Homo sapiens: one gene and its partner. The protein of the gene in region 2 interacts with the protein of the main gene of each other region in a pairwise test. Each region holds a gene or a part of one and is shown on either strand. Other genes may lie near its edges. The genes, in order: ZRANB1 and METTL21A.

What was found.
Region 1: the proteins of METTL21A (region 2) and ZRANB1 interact in binary tests that used the Homo sapiens proteins (3 or more experiments, as listed by UniProt).

The regions. Positions count from the first base shown.
Region 1 is NC_000010.11:124,980,063-124,983,885, reverse strand, and holds part of ZRANB1 (ubiquitin thioesterase ZRANB1), read right to left. Parts: intron 2,662-3,823; exon of another isoform or gene 2,558-2,661; intron 2,178-2,557; coding exon 2,057-2,177; intron 712-2,056; coding exon 582-711; intron 428-581; coding exon 198-427; intron 1-197. UniProt on the Homo sapiens protein: Ubiquitin thioesterase, which specifically hydrolyzes 'Lys-29'-linked and 'Lys-33'-linked diubiquitin. Also cleaves 'Lys-63'-linked chains, but with 40-fold less efficiency compared to 'Lys-29'-linked ones.
Region 2 is NC_000002.12:207,618,606-207,622,428, forward strand, and holds part of METTL21A (protein N-lysine methyltransferase METTL21A), read right to left. Parts: intron 3,313-3,823; coding exon 3,201-3,312; intron 2,186-3,200; coding exon of another isoform or gene 2,136-2,185; exon of another isoform or gene 2,090-2,135; coding exon of another isoform or gene 2,036-2,089; intron 1-2,035. UniProt on the Homo sapiens protein: Protein-lysine methyltransferase that selectively trimethylates residues in heat shock protein 70 (HSP70) family members. Contributes to the in vivo trimethylation of Lys residues in HSPA1 and HSPA8.

The DNA of each region.
Region 1 (3,823 bases), on a different chromosome or scaffold from region 2:
CTTAAGTTCCTTGATGTGTCCCCATACAGCAGTTTTGAAAAGGTAAATTTCAAAGTATAGCTAGTACCTTCAGCAATTACTACCATCACATTCAGAAATTAAGTGATAGTGCAGATAAAACCACACCTGAAAGGCACTTCAGGCTGTTTCTGGTACAAGGTCACTACTAGAAATAGTTCATAGGAGAAACTGCTTACCTCCTGAGCAGAAAGGAAGTGCACATGGAGTAGCTTCCTTTCACTGTCAACCAGAGGCAAAAATGTGATGGTGACATCATCATCGGTATTGAGATTAGCACCAGCACCTCGGTTGCCATAGCCATCATTTTCCATGGCAACCAAAGCAGAGAAGTGGCCCCTCGTATAACCCAGAGCAATCGGACTTTTCCAACAAAAACTCTGTTCCCACAACAAAGGCAGATAAACACCTGGAAAGAGAGGGAAGAAAATCCCAACAGTCACAGGAAGAAAGAGCCACTCCCTCACTGCCCTTGTTCACATTCCCCTGTCCACTGCTCCTTCCTGACATCTGAGCCATTCCGTTCAAAGAAACTTGTAAAACGTTCCTGAATAATGGCTTACCTTGAAACCGAGTATATCCTAAAGTTTCTCCCCGGAAACTCTTGTAATATTTTACTCCATAAACTATAATTGGTCGTCTAAGAATATGTGCCAGTACAAAAATGTGCGTCTGCTCCAAGCTTGCTCCAGGCTGTACGAAACAAAACAAAAACTTAAAACATTTATTACCACTCCTGGAAAACTGATGTGTAAAAAACAATACTACCTCCCCTTCAGTATACTATCGCAGTTGGTTTTTAAGAAAGAAAAGATTGTCAAAGCAGCATTTGATTCCTCAAATAATAAATCCAGTAAAACTGTAAAAGAAATCTATAAAGGCTACATGCAAATATCATTTACCATCCAAACTCACAAATTATACAGATGTGCATACATACTTTGAAATATCCCTCACTACTAACTCTCCAACCTCAGGAACCAGAGATTCAGATAACTAAGGATGCTTTATTATCACATTCTCGTTAAGTTACTGTGAAAGCACTACCTACAACAAAGTCCTCCTGAAATAAATAAGTGAGCCTGTTTCATGCAAATGTAAATGGCAGTATCAACTAACTCGTGAATACTAATATTAAATGGGTCCATCATCGAGCTACAATGCATGGTGTGAGATACATGTCTCATGTAAATCAACCACTATGAATCCTGCCCAAATTGCCCAAAGATCGGGTACCTCCTTCTCTAAGTTCAAATGAACCATGGTGCTTTCTGCAAAAAAAAAGGAGTAGTTGTATATATATTTGTACTTTACAGTTTGGTATACTGAAGTGCTTCACAAAATAAAGCATGAAACCAAGAGTCTAAGGGACAACCCTACACAGTTCTGTGTCACAAGCAGCCTTCATTAATAAAAAGACGTTAGCAAACTTGCAAAACTTCATTCCCACATTAATCAGAAATCATTCCTATTGATGGTAATTAGTTCAGAGTAAGCTAAACTACCCTTTTCCTTTGCCTACATGACACAGGTATTGCCTCACCACAGGGAGCATTATGAAGATTGACAACTGGTTCCTCAGGGCCTGACAGATCAGCAACAGCAATGCAAGTACCTACACCAGTAATCTTAAGTGTCCCCAGAGACAGAACAGAGCTCACCTGGATAGGTACCATAGGCATCAAGCCTATGCTGCAGGAACGGAGAGCAATCCCAAGACTATCTACTGTATGTAACCGTCATAGCACAGCTTTCACTTTTTGATGTTTTTAATCATTCGATATAAAAACACGTTACTCTTCCTGCTCTGCAGTGAGGACTTGCGATGCTAATCTATACTTGCGATGCTCATCTATACTTGCGATGCTATTTATTTGATACACAGCAGTCATCACTAGAACCCAAGTTGACTGATGATACCACGTCAAGCATTCTTTTCTTTGACCACATTGCCCCCAACATGGTTTGCTCAAATAAACCAGTTTAGACTACATGCTTACTTTTCTCATAGAAGCAACAAGACTTGAAGCATCCTCACCTGACTAGCAAGAGAGAGTATAAATGCCCAGTCTTCTTGCCACTGTTCTTCTCTCAAGGAAAAATGTAAACCAAAGCTCTGAGAATACCATGATTCCCAATCTTTCCAGCGTGTGTAAAACCTAAAAAAGCAGGATAGTAAAAAAATAAATAAATAGTCTTCTATAAATAAAACATTTAAAGTTCTGATCATTTTTATTTAATGCAGTCTTTAAGCAGTCTGTGAAACAATTAATAATTTTATTTTGTCTGGTTGGTAATGTATTTTTCTAATGAAAAATGCCTCCCTCTTCCACTAGCAGATACCTTGTAACATCCTTTAACATCTTTAGTCAGAATTTGATTTACCGACAACCAAATTTTCAAACTTCAAACGCTAATGATGAGACTGGTTATTTTCCACTGTCCACAATTAGTTTACAAAAAAAAAAAAAAAAAGTCATCTGAAATGTTGTATACAAAGACACTACATTTCTCTATCAATGTATAGTACACCACCTACTTGATCACTTGTATAAACAACAGGTGGGAAATATTCCGTGTGTTCATAGTATCAAGATCATCTCCCTGAGATTTCTTTCCATAAATAATTTCTCTGATGATCACCTAATAATTCAAAAGCAACCAAAAAGAAACCCACTGCAATGACAGAAAACATTCCTTCTTTATGCTTAACACTGAATTACTGAAAACACATCGATTCTTTGTCTATCAAATATAAAAATTCAGAAATAATTATGCTCAAAATTATGGTTCACTGTCTTATAAAAACAAGCCAACTAAGACCTCTAAAATGCAGACAGACATTTAATCTGTTTATAACATCACATTTATCTTCTATACATCTGAATTCTAGGTAAAAGAAACAAAAGACCAATCTGTTCCTGTTGTTAAAAAGTTTCAGCATATTAAAGTTAAACGTGAACACGTGTGGTAACTCACACCTGTAATTCTAGCACTTTGGGAAGCTGAAGGAGGAGGATTGCCTGAGGTCCAGAATTCAAAACAACCTGGCCAACATAGTGAGACCCCGGCTATATTGCGGGGGGAAAAAAAAAGTTAAATGGGTGGTGTCACAAGTAACTTTACAGTAATTTAATGAAGGGCTCCTTAGAGAGTAAATATATTTCCTAAAGAAATTAAAATATAATGTTCCAGAGGTTTAACTCAGTTTAAAACATTTTTCATACTCCACGTAACTGAGGATGTTTAATCATAATTCCAAATGTTTTAAAATTAAAATATGTATATTCTTTTATAATCGCTAAGATAAATGTGTCTTGAAAATTTTGGCAACAGTGATGAAATACATTGTTTTGAAAAGTTCAAGGAGAAATATCAGAGAAATTGTCAATACTGAAAGTTATATGCAGTTAGAAATTTCTTGGTGCCTAAAATAACTTTATAAATAAGACAGCTAAGCCAGCCAGAAATTCAATGGTGATTGCACTCAAAACTCTTCAAAGACCACTGAAGAAGGGAGGTTCAATGAAATATACTTTAAAACTAAACATGTTAAAATGTTCATCCTCACCACCCCAAGACCTAAACTCTGATACTACCAGAGTCTCCATAAGAACAGACAAGCAAACCAAATCCAGCAATATATGACCAAATGGTACAGGAATACCAGTTTGGTTTAACATTCAAAACTCAATTCCATGTTCATGGATTGGAAGGCTCAATATTGTCAAGCTGGCAATACCACCATCACCCCAATTAAATCTACAGATTCAATGCAATCCCAATCATAATCCCAGCTGTCTTT
Region 2 (3,823 bases):
GGCAGGAGAATCGCTAGAACCCGGAGGCGGGGGCAGAGATTGAAGTGAGCCGAGATCGCACCACTGCACTCCAGCCTGGGTGACAGAGTGAGACTCCATCTCAAAAACAACAACAACAACAAAAGGTATGTGAATGTGGTCTCTCTCTCTCTCTAAAAAATATCTTATCATACTCTAGTCACCTGTTTTCAGACCAAGGCTGACAGTGGGTAACTGAAGCCAGGGAAAGTGATCACAGGTGAGGGGGGACTGCTACAGTTCCAAGTACCATAAGACCAGGGAGATTTTCAAACTAAGAACGAGGATTTGAGAGTCAGATTGGATTCAAATTCTAAGCACAATCCATTAGCTTTGTGACCTCAGGCAAGTTACTTACCCTCCAAGAAGCCTCCCTTTCACCACTGGAAGGGCGCTATAAGTAGGTAAGGCCTACTTACCATGCAGGGTGACTGTGAGAATGAAAGGGTGTAATGCACAGTCCTCAGAACACAGGAACTACTCAGGAATTAGCAGCTGGTTTTTAACAGGAAAGTCTCATCACCCTATATTAATATCTACATAGCACCGCTTTTTTTTTTTTTTTTTAATCTTCTTTCTTTACCTCTACCCACTAAACTCAGAACGTAAGCTTCCGGAGACACCTGCCAGCCTGTTTATTGCCCCATCCACAGTGGACCGCCAGGCTTCTGGTGGGTTCTCCCCAAATTCAGGAATAAATGACTAAGGTTACAAAAAGAGAATATACTTTAAAAAGAATAATAATTAATCTCTTCCTGACATTTCAAAATCACTACCTATTCTAGTACTCACTGATTCTATTTTGAAGAGACTAACATTTTCTTACCCTCAGGCTCCAACAGCAAAACTTCTCCAACCTAACACTTTGTAGTGACTACAAATAGTGAGTATGAAAATCATACAGTAGCAGAGAAATGCTTATGACATAATGTGAAAACATCATTTGTATAGGTGTGTGTATACGGATACACAAAACACACATACGCAGACATATATATTTACATATATATAATCATAATTACAACTATGATTAAAAATACAGATGGAGAGAAACAAAACATACCAAAATGCTAATGGTAACTCTGGTGGTATCTGAAATATCTTATTCTGACTTTCCCAACCCCAGAGAACCAGATTGCTAGATCAGAAAAAGCAGTTACTCAGAGAGTAATCAACACTCGTGGAGCACTTCCTTTGTGTCACTCAGTGAGCCAGCAGATGTTATACACGCAATCTCATTGGTTCCTCACTGTGGAGTAAATATTACTATTATGCACAATGTACAGATGGGGTAATCAATGTTTAAAGGTTAAGCAACTTGCCCAAGGTCACACGACTAGTAAGAATGAAAAGAAATGTCAAAACCAAGTATAACTAAGCCTATGCACTTTGCTACACTAACATGTCTATACACCAGCCAAGAAAGTTTTGCATGAAGCCCTGGTTCTCAGGAGGAAACAGAAGAAACCTCATTTCCCCTTATAGTAACTCTTATATCAGCAGAGAGAGAAGTTGGTGTTACAGAAAAAAATAAAACAGGCCAGGCACGGTGGCTCACTCCTGTAATCCCAGCACTTTGGGAGGCCAAGGTGGGCAGATCACCTGAGGTCAGGAGTTCGAGACCAGCCTGGCCAACATGGTAAAACCCCATCTCTACCAAAAATAAAAAATTAGCTGGGCGTGGTGGCACATGCCTGTAGTCCCAGCTACTAGGGAAACTAAGGCAGGAGAATTGCTTGAACCCGGGAGGCGGAGGTTGCAGTGAGCCGAGATCATGCCACTGCACTCCAGCCTGGGCAACAGAGTGAGACTCCATCTCAAAAAATAAATAAATAAAATAAAATAAAATAAAATAAAATAAAACAACTAACTGTGTCTAACAAGCCTGGTTTTGAGTCCCAGATCTCCAGTGATCAGGACTTCAGAAAGTAGCTTCATCTCCCAGAATCCCAGCTTTGTTTGAAAAATGAAAATTAAAAATAATACCTAACATACACGGGAATGTTCTAAGGCTCACCTGAAAAGAATAAAAGGCAGTGTACCAGCAAGGGCTTCATCGATGACTTAAGTGCTGTGGTTGAAGACGGACGGAAACCTCTGTCAATTTACACAGACTTTCAACCACCACCCCTGCCCATGCTCCCTGTCGAATTTTGGAAAGCAGCAGCTAAGCAGAAAAAGAAATAGTGAAAAAGTATTGGGTTTCTGGAAAACAGGCAGGACAAAAGAGGGGCTTTAGCTGGTCCTCAAATATCTGTAGACAATGCGATGGGTTTAGAATACTCTGGAATCCTGGATCCTTCCTACCCAAGTGTAGTCTGAGAACCAGCAGTGTCGGCATCACTACTGACATTTCTACTGCTTGTTAGAAATGCAGGTTCCCAGGCCCTGGTCCAGCCCTGCCAAATCAGAATCTGCATTTTAACAAGAGCACCAGGTGACAATATGGAAGTGATAAACATTATACATTGTATCTTGAAAGCTGGTCTACCCTTATGATTAGATAGCTTGAACTATATATGTCAGAAGTTATAGAAATGAGTCAATAGTCAATAATAAAAATAACAATGAAGCCTAAAAATGCTCTAGCTCCAAGCCTCAATTAATGTGTGTATACCAAATTTTAAAATGACAAACTTTGATATCAAGTCAGAACTGTATACTGTTCATACAATTTTAAAAATAAGAAGTCAGTACAAACTATAGTGGGGGCTAGCCCTCCCTACAAGAGAAAAACCAGCAAAGTTTCCTCAGCAATGAAGAAAAGACTATCTGCTCTATCTCCCTCACAGGGTTAAATCAGATAGTGTATGGGAAAGAAAGCCCCTGAATGTGAAAAAAACTCTATACATGGGTAAGATTATTCTCCTTGAATCAACTCACTTTAAGATCGTATTATTGGCATCACAGAATTGAAGGGGGCAGAGCAATCTCCCATGGGAAGTATAAATAACAGAGTGTGTGTGTGTGTGAGAGAGAGAGACAGAAATTAGAGAGAGAGAAATTAGCCCGTTAGCCTCACTGGAGTTAAGAACCCCAGCAGTTGGCCCACAACTCATAAGTATAAGCAAAAGATAATAACCCAGTAAGGGGAAAACCCACGAAGGGTTTTGCGCTAAGAAAACAGCAAATGCACCTCTCAATGAGTTCTGCTCACTAAGGAGTCAATGCATGACACTCACCCAGCAGGGCAGCCACTATGCCCACCAGCCCCGTGCCAGCACCCAGCTCCACGGCAGAGCGGCCCCTGAGCTCCACAGCTCCCATCTCCAGGTATGTGGAAAGAACGATGGCCTGAATGAAAACACAGTGTGATGACGATTAAGGTCAACATGTGCTTGAGTAGCTGCAGGGTTTCAGGTCAGCTACACCCACCCCTCTCCCACTTCGAGGTTCAATTCCCAGCTTAACAACACACACAGGAACTTAGCTGGTGCAGCAAGGTAACCTCCCCCTTAGAGCAAGCACAGGGTCCCACAGCAGTGCCCAGAGATGATGCCCACACTAAATGGGGTCCTGCTGGATCTGGAAAGCTTAATTTTTTTTTTTTTTTTTTTTTGAGATGGAGTCTCAGTCCATCTGTCACCCAGGCTGGAGTGCAGTGGCACAATCTCAGCTCACTGCAACCTCCACCTCCCAAGCTCAAGCGATTCTCCCACCTCAGCACCCCCAGTAACTGGGACACAGGCGTGCACCACCACACCCAGCTAATTTTTGTAGTTTTTTTGGTAGAGATGGGGTTTTGCCATGTTGGCCAAGCTGGTCTTGAACTCCTGAGCTCCTGCGTCAGCTTCCCAAAGTGCTA